3 linked regions of the Homo sapiens genome follow. The protein of the gene in region 1 purifies or fractionates together with the protein of each later gene. This does not show direct contact. Each region holds a gene or a part of one and is shown in the gene's direction. Other genes may lie near its edges.

Region 1 (3,600 bases):
CAAGTATGGTGCCAAGGAGGCTAAAAAGGAGTGGCTGTCAATTCCATCAATTGATAGAAGTTGAGTAAGATGACAGAGAAGTGACTAATGTATTTGGAAAGATGGAGTTATTACTCCTCTCGGCAAGACAGTTTTATTAGATCGGGAGCTCCTCCACTGGAGCTGAAGAGAGAATGGACTGTGAAAGTGGAGATATGTATAGACATCTCAAAGGCAGCACCTGATCCTTGACACTCTCTCCTACCTCCTTCTCTCTCTAAATTTTGATCTCTATTGGCGGCCCAAGCTAGAAATCTGGGAGACACTCTCAAGTCTTTCCTCTCTTTCAGATCGCATAGGCTATTATTTACAGTTATTCCCATTTTACCTCCTAAATAATTACTGATTTTCTTCTGTGCCATTCCTGCTTTTTATTGCTAACAGGCCCTCGTCATCTCTAATCGTTACGACTGCAGCATCTTCCTAATAATCCTCACAGTTTTCAGCCTCTAGCTTTGACGCCCTCAAAATTCTGTTAGTAAAGCCTGAGGGCTCCCAGAAAGCGACGATGGTGCTGTGCTGGCAGACCGAATGTTTTTTAAAACACAAAGCTTGCAGTCCTGCTGCTGTGCTCAAAATCCTTGCATGGCTCTTCTTGAAACAGGTTTAGTGTTTCTACTCGAGTTCCTTCTCTGTCGTTCAACACAAACACATACACACCCAGTTCTGTTTCACGCTTTTGTCTTTATTATCCCTCGTAACTGCCCGCCCTGCAACCAACCCGCTCAAACAAGCACCCTGACTGGCGCATTCTTACTCATTCTAGCCTGGGTTTCAACTTCAAGGAGCTTCAGCGCCCCTCACTCCCTTGCCCTGAAAGCTGGCTAAACTACGCACCTTTTCTCCCCTTTTGAAATGACCTTTCCAGATATTTCTATGGAATTCAGTGCCATTTTCTGCCGCTGTTCTCACCACATTCATTCATCATGTTTAGTTTTAAAAGTACCAGATTCTGTCGATTTCTCCAACTGAACTCTGAAATCTTTGAGGTCAGGGAGCTTGCCTCATTCTATTTTGTATTCCCAGTACGTGACACATGGCTGGACACACCAGAAATTGTCCGATCAAGTTTGTGGGTATTAAGAGTGGTCAAAGACGCTGGGGAGGGCAGTGCTGGGAGAAGGGCAGCGCGCGTCTTGGCGACCCCAGCGCAGTTCGAACTACTCCGGAGTCTGGTGTGGAGCCGAGAGGGAGCCCCGCACTTTTCTCCCCGCGGAGCTGCGCTGAGTCTGAAATAGGTGTACGCGTCAGCGGGGCAGGAAACGGAAAGACAGTGCAGTAATTGGTGGAAAGCTGGAAGTGGGCACCTCGAGGGCCTCAGCCCCACGAACACAGTCACCCAGGAAAAGCGAACCGCGCCAGGCCCTGTCATCGACCGCTGGGTCCGTCCTCCCAGCGCTCGCGGCCGCTCACATGGGCGTGGCCCTGCGTGACCTGCCGGGGCGTCACGTGAGCTCCCGGAGTCATGTGACCGCCGTCTTGACAGTGTTCCACGGGCGCTGCTTCCTGCCTGGGTTTGGAGTTGTCACCACTTTCCCCTCTCCGTCTCCTGCGGGCGCAATGGAGGAGGAGGATGAGGAAGCGCGGGCGCTCCTGGCAGGCGGCCCTGACGAGGCCGACAGAGGTGCCCCGGCCGCCCCTGGAGCCCTGCCGGCCCTCTGCGACCCCAGTCGCCTGGCGCACCGGCTTTTGGTGCTGTTACTGATGTGCTTCCTTGGCTTTGGTGAGCCGGCCGGGTGGGTTGGGGCTGATCTTTAAGGAATTCCCGACTTTCTCTTCGAGGTAGATCGTCATCGTGGTCACTGGTGCCACGGGGCCTCAGCGCAGCTTCTGTCTTAAGCTCCTGGGCCTCCTTATTTTCCCCTTTGCGATCGATTCCAGCCACACCTGTGGATGTTGCTAGTTACTCCGCGTCCGGAACGTGGAGGTCGAGGGACTGAGCTGGGCGAGTTTTGTGGCACTCCTTTGCTCTTCAGTAAGTCCCAGGGGCTAGCGACTCGCCCTAGAGGCGATAGATATGAAGGTAACTCCAGATTTTCAAGGTTCCTCTTTTGGCACACGTGGTCGGAGGAAATTCAGAAAGCTTTAACTGTTCCTAAACAACTTTTGTTTGTTTGGTTTTAGGTGAGACAGGGGCTTGCTCTGTCACCCAGCCCGGAGTGCAGTGTTGTGAAAGTGGCTTACTGCAGCCTCCACCTCCTGGGTTCAAGCAATCCTCCCGCCTCAGCCTCCCGAGTAGCTGGGACCACAGATGGGGCGCCACCACACCCGGCTTTATTATTATTATTATTTTTAGACACAGGGTCTTACAATGTTGTCCAGCTTTTAAAAAACGTGAATGATTTCGTCGGCAGTCTTCTATATATTTTTCACCCTCTTTGAGAAAATGTATGAGTGTGTCTTGCTGATAGCTTCAGTGAATAGATATTGTTCTCTTAATCTTCCACTCTGCCACTGTGAAGCAATCATATTGGACGGGACTTGTGGTAGTCTTGACAGTGGTTGGTTTCTCTTATGAAATCTGATGTCTCCGAAAACAGTTTCTTGATAATTAGAAAAAAATTTTCCTTCCTATGTTACAGTTTTTAATTTATTAAGCAAAATTCTAATATTAATTTGGTATGAATGTGTTTTTCAGGAGGCTAGCTGGAGCCCGTGTAATCAGCAGGTTTAAGAACATTATGGTGGATAACTATTCTAGCGCTGAACATATAAGTAGACATGAAGGATGCTTTGGGCTTTGGTTTCCTTGCAACTCCTTTTTCCCCCCTCCCCTGTTTTTTAAAAGATGATGCCCATCCATTAGCTTTAAAGCAGGACGTTGAATCCTTAAAAGAGATTAAAGCAGGGTTTAGAAACAACCACCACCACAACAAAGAAAGAACAACAATAAAACATTAAAAAAAATGGTCCCCACTCAAGCAGACAGACAGTTTTTGGTAAATTCTGGTTATCTGCCTAGAATTCAGAAGCCAGATTCATTCCTTTCTAATGACAGTTTTTATTGTCATTAGAACCAATAGCCTCGTGCACTTGTAGAGTTAGTAGAGCTATGGAGGCAATATTTTCTTGTAGCCTACGAAGGAATCTCAATTATTTTATCTTTAAAATAAATCCGAGTGCATGGTCAGATCTCTCCCTACTTCTCTCTTTCCAGTTCCCCCAAAGACATGTTTTAATTTAATCCTTTAGAATTCTCAGTTTCATTTTTTTTTCACTCCTGGCCCTGTATTCACTAAATTATTTGATTTTGGGTAGTTTGTAGAATTAGAGAACTTGTTTCAAATATTGGTTTTGTCAGAATGGTTACACTCCATTCCTTTGTCCTTAAGCTAACATTATTAGGAAACTGATGAGGTTGTAAAGTTTTTAGTGTATGTGTGTTTGTAAATAAGGAAATAAATAAAATATAGATGCTTCATGAAGATATTAATAAAATAGTATATGTGTGAAGCATGATGAAAGTAAAATAGAAAAATATTTAATTGTTGGTTGTTGACTTTTTAATTCAGGTTCCCAGTATTTGCTGTGTATGAACACTACCAATTTATGGAAGTTATT
Region 2 (3,728 bases), on another chromosome or scaffold:
GTGACCAGGTACATTGTCAATGAGTAGTAATACTTTGAAAGGAATTTTTTTTTCCAAGCAGGTCTCAACAATGGGCTTAAAATATTCAGTGAACCGTGTTGTAAACAGATGTCATATTATCCAGACTGTTCCATTTATTGAACACAGGCAGAGTAGGTAAAAGTTTTAAGGGTCCTAGGATTTTCAGGATGGCAAATGAGCATTGGCTTCAACTTAAAGTCACCAGCTACATTCACCACTAAAGAGAGTCAGCCTGTCCTTTAAAGCTTTAAAGGCAAGCATTGACTTCTCTTTAGCTATGAAAGTTTTAGATGGCACCTTTTTGTAAAAGAAGGTTGTTTTATCTACATTGAAAATATATTGTTCATTGTAACCACTTTCATCAATGATCTTAGCTAGATATTCTGGGTAACTTACTGCAGGTTCTCCATCAGCACTTACTGCTTCACCTTGCACTTTTATATTATGGAAACAACTTATCTCCTTAAACATCATTAACCAACCTCTTGGTAGCTTCCAACTTTTCTTCAATAGCTTCCTCATCTCTCTCAGCCTTCATAGAATTGAAGCGTGTTAGGGCTTTGTTCAGGATTAGGCTTTCACTTAAGGCAATGTTGTGGCTGGTTTGATCTATTGAAACCACTAAAACATTCCCATATCGGCAATAAGGCTGTTTGATTTTCTTATCATTCATGTTTTCTGGAACACTTTTCAATTACTTACAGTAAGGAAATAGCACTTTTAATTTCCTTCAAGAACTTTTCCTTTGCCTTCACAACTTGTGCAAGAGACCTAGCTTTCAGCCTATCTTGACTTTCCAAGATTGTCCTTGGTGAGAAATGCTTGATTACTAGGTGTAATTATTTCTAGCTTTTGATTGAAAGTGAGAGATATGTGACTCTTCCTTTTACTTGAACAGTTAGAGGCTATTGTAGGATTATTAATTGGCCTAATTTCAATGTTATTTTGTCTCAAGGAGAGAGGGATGTGGGAACAGCTGGTTAGGAGAGCAGTCCGAACACACACTTTTTTTTATTACTTTCACTGCCTTACATGGGTATGGTTCATGCTGCCTCCAAATACTTACAAAAACATCAAAGATCACTGATTACAGATCATTAAAATAGGTTTAATAATAATGGAAACATTTGAAATATTGCAAAAATTACCAAAATGCGACAGAGACATGAAATGAGAACATGCTGTTGAAAAAAATGGCACTCATAGACTTGTTGGACACAGGATTGAAAGAAACCAATTCATCAAAACCACAATATCTGCAAAACGCAATAAGGTGATGCACAATAAAAGGAAGTATATCTGCACTTCCTTCTTTTTTACTGAAAAAGCCCAAGTTCTTACTCTGGTGTTGAGAACCTTTCATTAGCTGGCTACAATCTCAGTTCACAATCATTTCTTATTGCCCTTCAACAATGTCCTGACCAAATCGAGTTCTTTCTCATTGGGAACAGTTCATTCCTTTATCCCTTCGCTCATTCTGTTCCTTTTTTCTTAGAAAAATTATTTGCCCATGTTTTTTATCCCCCAATTCTATCTTTTTCAATGCCCACTTCGTGTCCAACCCCTCTCTACTTTCCCTCTAAACTTACTCAAACACTTGGTGAACTTTTTCTGAATGTTTTTTCTGAATGTTTACTTTTAAAGGAGTTGCCCAGTCACAAAGTTTGAGCCAAGTTTTTTTGTTTTAAACTTGTTTTAAACTTTTGTTTTCATCAACTTTTTTCAAACAATTTTTGTCAGCTTAGAGGTTGTGTTTTAATTACTATTTTTAAAATCTTGTATGAGGTAGTATGATTTGAAATTAGATGGAATGTGCCCAAAATTATCTCTGTAGAATAATATGGAAAAACGAAAATGAAAAGATGTATTACCTGAATGTGCTCCTCCTAGCCAGTTTCTCAAGGGAGAAGAATCATTAATAAGTTTGTGAGGCTTTTTTTTTTTTTCTGGTAGATTTCTGTTTCCTTGATCAGTGGTTTTTCAGAATTTTTTAAAGCTTGTGAAATACTTATTTGTAAATAGCATCTTATGAGGAACCTTGATATGTGACAAAACAGATGCTTTGATTTGAGAGCAGAAGACCTGCAGCCCCTGACTGCTCACCTTTCCAGGGACCCCTGAACATTGGCCTAGAGGGTAGTGTACAGTCACTTCTTCAGTGATAACTTACTGAGTGTGATTCAACAAAACTGCTTTGGTTTATGGGTGAAACATAATTTATAACTAGGCAAATGTCAGCTTAAATTTATATTTTCTAAATAGCACTGAAAATGACAATAGACAAATGTAATTTCTGATTTTTAAGAAATGATTTTCCATTTTAACATACATTTTAAATGTTTTGTCTTCAAAGGGAATCCTTAAAAATGATATATTGGAAACCACTGATTTCTTATTTTCATTTCATGAATTTCAGATTCATGAATGGAATATATTGATAATAGCATTTTTTAAGTTGCCCCAAAAAGATGAAATACAAATAATTTTAATCCCAAATCTATTTCAGACACCTAACTTTTTTTTTATTTTTTATACTTTAAGTTCTAGGATACATGTGCAGAACGTGCAGGTTTGTTACATAGGTATACACGTGCCATGTTGGTTTGCTGCACCCATCAACCCGTCATCTACATTAGATATTTCTACTAATGCTATCCCTCCCCTAGCCCCCTACCCCACAAAAGGCCCCAGTGTGTGATGTTCCCCTCCCTGTGTCCATCTGTTCTCATTGTTCAACTCCCACTTATGAGTGGCAACATGTGCTGTTTGGTTTTCTGTTCCTGTGTGTGTTTGCTGAGAATGATGGTTTCCAGCTTCATCCATATCCCTGAAAAGGACATGAACTCATCCTTTTTTATGGCTGCATAGTATTCCATGGTGTATATATGCCACATTTTCTTTATCCAGTCTATCATTGATGGACATTTGGGTTGGTTCCAAGTCTTTACTATTGTGAACAGTGCTGCAATAAACATATGTGTGTATGTGTCTTTACAGTAAAATGATTTATAATCTTTTGGGTATACACCCAGTAATGGGATTGCTGGGTCAAATGGTATTTCTGGTTCTAGATCCTTGAGGAATCACCACACTGTCTTCCACAATGGTTGCAATTTACACTCCCACCAACAGTGTGTAAAAGCTTCCTATTTCTCTACATTCTCTCCAGCATCTGTTGTTTCCTGACTTAATGATTGCCATTCTAACTGGCGTGAGATGGTTTCTCACTGTGGTTTTGATTTGCATTTCTGTAATGACCCGTGATGATGAGCTTTTTTTCATGTTTGTTGGCTGCATAAATGTCTTCTTTTGAGAAGTGTAAGGTACTTAATTCTTAAATTAAAAAAAAATACCCGGCCGGGCACGGTGGCTCACGCCTGTAATCCCAGCACTTTGGGAGGCCGAGGCGGGTGGATCATGAGGTCAAGAGATCGAGACCATCCTGGCTAACAAGGTGAAACCCCGTCTCTACTAAAAATACAAAAAATTAGCCGGGCGCGGTGGCGGGCGCCTGTAGTCCCAGCTACTCGGGAGGCTGAGGCAGGAGAATGGCGTGAACCCGGGAAGCGGGGCTTGCAGCGAGCCGAGATTGCGCCACTGCAGTCCGCAGTCCGGCCTGGGCGACAGAGCGAGACTCCGTCTCAAAAAAAAAAAAAAAAAAAAAAAAAAAATACCCTTCTTTAACAAAATCAAGTTTCAAGTTTTCT
Region 3 (3,728 bases), on another chromosome or scaffold:
ACAACCCGAAAAATCTGAGACTGACCTATGTCAGGCTAAAGCCAATTATGAATCTTCATAAGAAATGAACCTGTATCCTAAACCCCTGGAAATATCTTCCTTCATGTATTGGGGGTCTTCTGAACCTGAAAAACCACTGCCACATATTTGGGGGTTAGGGGAAGAGCGACAGAAGCATGGCTATGAGGGAGGGAGATGGGGTGATAAGAGGTTGGAGGGATTTCCCAGTTGTTGTCATTTTTCTTAAAGACTCAGTTCATGTATTCTTTGTAGTCAGGCTGCCTTTTGCTTGGGTGGATTACAAATTTAACTTTGTAAAATCTAGATACAAGATTTCTGCAACCAGAGGGCTGGGTGTGTCTTTAGGAAGACACTGGGCAAGATGCTTTATGGATATTTTCCAAGATTGATAAGATTGCAGGGCACGTTGAATGATTTGCTCATGAGGGAAATGTACACAGGACTTGCACTAGACCTGGTCTCTTCATAGTTACTGCTTTTCAATCTGTTTTGCCTGTGGAAGCCTCGTCCAGCATTCCCAATGCTTGCTCTTTTTTTGTTTGTTTGTTTGTTTTCACAGCTTTTTGTGAAACTGGCAACTTCAAAGACCGCAGTAGAGGACTCAGGTGAGGGGGCAGTTCCTACGGATGGGGGAGGGTTGCTGGTGGGGTTTACGTTATCCTAAATGTGTCCCTGAGAAAGGGAGTTTTATATACCTTAAAGAGAGAATATATGGATATTCAGCAGGATTAGTGAGATATCTGAAGGGAAAAAGGGAGGAAGGAAGGGAGAGAGTAAGGAAGGGAGGGAGGAAAGGAAAGAAGAGGAGAGAGGAAGGGAGGGTATATTAGAACCCCGGAAGGTGGGAGGAGGCTATGAGGCCACTGTTTCTGGCTTCTGTCTGCTTAGATCTTGCTGCCTTACATGGGAGTGAGATGGTGGAGTCATGTGGTAGCGGCTTTGCAATCAGGTGCTTCCTCTGATGTATTGGGGCATCTATCTAAAAGACCATTTCAGCCCCGGTAGCTCTTATCTGCTGTGAAACAGCCAAGCTGCAAGGCCTTGTTATCACTGAAATCTAAGACCCAAACCAGGCATTTGCAAAAGCTTCTAATTCCCAGAATATCCTGCAGGAAATATCCCTCATGACTGTGGTGGTTATGTACATCTTAATCTCTACATTTGAAACTAAAGTAACTTGGTGCCCCTTTAGGGCTCAAGGTAGTTCTCTTCTCTGCATCCTTCATCAGACAATTTTGAAAATGAAAAGCGATGGGAAATACTGAGGTGGAATTACACAAACAAAACCCTGGCTGAGGTTTCTTATCAGCTTTCACTTCTTCCTTAGAACCTTTCTTTCTCAATGTTAGGTCCAATGTTTAAAAAGAAAGTGATACCCTCCTTTGCCTACTTCACCAAATATGATGAGGGTGAGAGATGCAATAACTCCCAGTGCTCAGAGTCCTGGGGGCCTTGTAAGCTCAGCACAACTCGGATGAGTTTCTTTTGCCATCTGAGACCAGCCTGTGGGTGTATCTGCGAGCCACCTTCCTGTCTAGTTTCTGACCCAGGTCTCTCCCTTCTGTTGCAGACAAAGCATACATGCTGCACATCGGCACCCTGGATAAGGTCCGAGAAGAGTGGCAGAGTGAGCACATCAAGGCCTGCGAGGTACCCGTAACCGGAAGCTGCTCAGGACTGGGGTGGGTGGGTGGGGGTGTGTGTAACAGGAAGCTGCTCAGGACGGGGGGGGGAGGGGAGGAGGGGGAGGGGAGGGAGGGAAGGGGGAGTGGGGCCGGGGGTTGGGGGAGGACGAGGGGGCGGGAGGTGGGTCTTCTGCCCAGAACCTGGAGAGTCTACTTTTGTAGAAATGATCTGCCCGGATTCTCATAGGGTTACAGAGCTTGAGGGCAAATTAGAAATCAGAAATTTGGCCAGGCACGGTGGCCCATGCCTGTAATCCCAGCACTTTGGGAGGCCGAGGTGGGTGGATCACCTGAGGTCAGGAGTTCAAGACCATCTGGCCAACATGGTGAAACCCTGTCTCTACTAAAAATACAAAAATTAGCCGGGTGTGGTGGCGCACACCTGTAATCCCAGCTATTCTAGAGGCTGAGGCAGGAGTATAGCTTGAACCTGGGAGGCGGAAGTTGCAGTGAGCCAAGATAGTGCCATTGCACTCCAGCCTGGGCGACAGAACAAGACTCCGTCTCCAAGAAAACAAACAAACAAAAAAAGAAATCAGAAATTTAAGTGAAGAATGGAAGGAACTGGAATAGTTTTCCCCAAACCTTGTCTGCCTCATCCCCATCCTGACCATGCTGTCCAACAGTTCAAATTTTAGTCTAATGTTGGGTTAGCACAAGCATAGAATAGCTGAATCAGTTAATGGTCGATTAAGTAATTATCTTTGGAGAGCCCGGCCTCAATAGGCTCTAAAGGGAATGCCAACAGCAAGTGAGTAGGCTTTGGAGATTTGTTTGTTTGCTTTTTGTTTTGAGTCTGGGTCTCACTCTGTCGCCCAGGCTGGAGTGCAGTGGCATGATCAGAGCTCACTGCAGCCTGAAACCCCATGAGCTCAAGTGAAGTAGATGGGACTACAGGCGTGCACCACCACGCCTTGTTAATTATTTATTATTTATTTTATTTTTAAAGAGACAGGGACTTGCTCTGTTGCCCAGGCTGGTCTTGAGCTCCTGGGTCTCAAGCAATCCTTCCACCTTTGCCTCCTGAGTTGCCAGGGTTACAGGCATGAGCCACCATGCCTGGCTGGAGGGTTTTCTTTTTTTTTTTTACTCTCCTCATACCTTCAATTTCACCACTGCTCCCTTTCTTTTGCAGCAAATGACCTCACAATTTCCAAGAGAAAATAAAAAACATAACTTGGAAGCTTGCTTAAGTTTCTGTCATCCTGCCTACACATTTTCTTCCAGTGGTTCTCAAAGTGAGGTCCTAGGACTGGTAGCATCAGCATCACCTGGGAACTTGTTAGAAATGCAGGTTCTCAGACCAACCTCAGACCTACCGAATCAGAAACTCTGGGGGTAAAGCCCAGCAATCTCTGTGCTAATAAGCCTTCCAAGTGATTTTGATGGGAATTCAAGTATAAGAATCATTGACAGACACGCCTGCCCCACTCCTTTTTTCCTGTTAGCACAGAAAAGGGGCTGTTCCTTCCTTGTTCAAGATCTTTTTTCATCCAGCTTGCCTTTCCCCACCTTCTTGGGCATGGAGAACTTGTCAACTTCTGTTATCTTGCACACAGACTCAACTCTCTCCTAGCTTTAAAACCCACCAGTTCAGCCAGGCATGGTGGCTGCTAATGCCTGTAATCCCAGCACTTTGGGAGGCCAAGGCAGGCAGATCACCTGAGGTCAGGAGTTCAAGACCAGTCTGGACAACATAGTGAAACCCAGTCTCTACTAAAAATACAAAAATTAGCTGGATGTGGTGGCAAGCACCTGTAATCCCAGCTACTTGGGAGGCTGAGGTGGGAAAATCACTTGAGCCCGGGAGGTGGAGGTTTCAGTGAGCTGAGATCATGCCACTACACTCTAGCCTGGGCAACAGAGTTAGACTCCATCTCAAAAAAACCCAAAAAGCAAAAAACAAAACCAGCAGTTCTTACTTTCTATCTACGACCCCTACTACCCCCGCCCTTCTTCACAGCCACGCTTTTTGAAGGGGCTGTCTCCAAGTCCATGTTGTCCTGACTGCCCCAGCCTGCA

Evidence for each region.
Region 2: the proteins of MFSD1 (region 1) and TMEM106B purify together in Homo sapiens (affinity purification with mass spectrometry; one large-scale study listed by BioGRID and IntAct). This does not show direct contact.
Region 3: the proteins of MFSD1 (region 1) and PSTPIP2 purify together in Homo sapiens (affinity purification with mass spectrometry; one large-scale study listed by BioGRID and IntAct). This does not show direct contact.

What each region holds. Positions count from the first base shown.
Region 1 is NC_000003.12:158,800,554-158,804,153, forward strand, and holds the start of MFSD1 (lysosomal dipeptide transporter MFSD1), read left to right. Parts: upstream 1-1,500; 5' UTR 1,501-1,599; coding exon 1,600-1,762; intron 1,763-3,600. UniProt on the Homo sapiens protein: Lysosomal dipeptide uniporter that selectively exports lysine, arginine or histidine-containing dipeptides with a net positive charge from the lysosome lumen into the cytosol.
Region 2 is NC_000007.14:12,238,716-12,242,443, forward strand, and holds part of TMEM106B (transmembrane protein 106B), read left to right. Parts: 3' UTR 1-3,728. UniProt on the Homo sapiens protein: In neurons, involved in the transport of late endosomes/lysosomes. May be involved in dendrite morphogenesis and maintenance by regulating lysosomal trafficking.
Region 3 is NC_000018.10:45,995,692-45,999,419, reverse strand, and holds part of PSTPIP2 (proline-serine-threonine phosphatase-interacting protein 2), read left to right. Parts: intron 1-580; coding exon 581-626; intron 627-1,591; coding exon 1,592-1,671; intron 1,672-3,728. UniProt on the Homo sapiens protein: Binds to F-actin. May be involved in regulation of the actin cytoskeleton.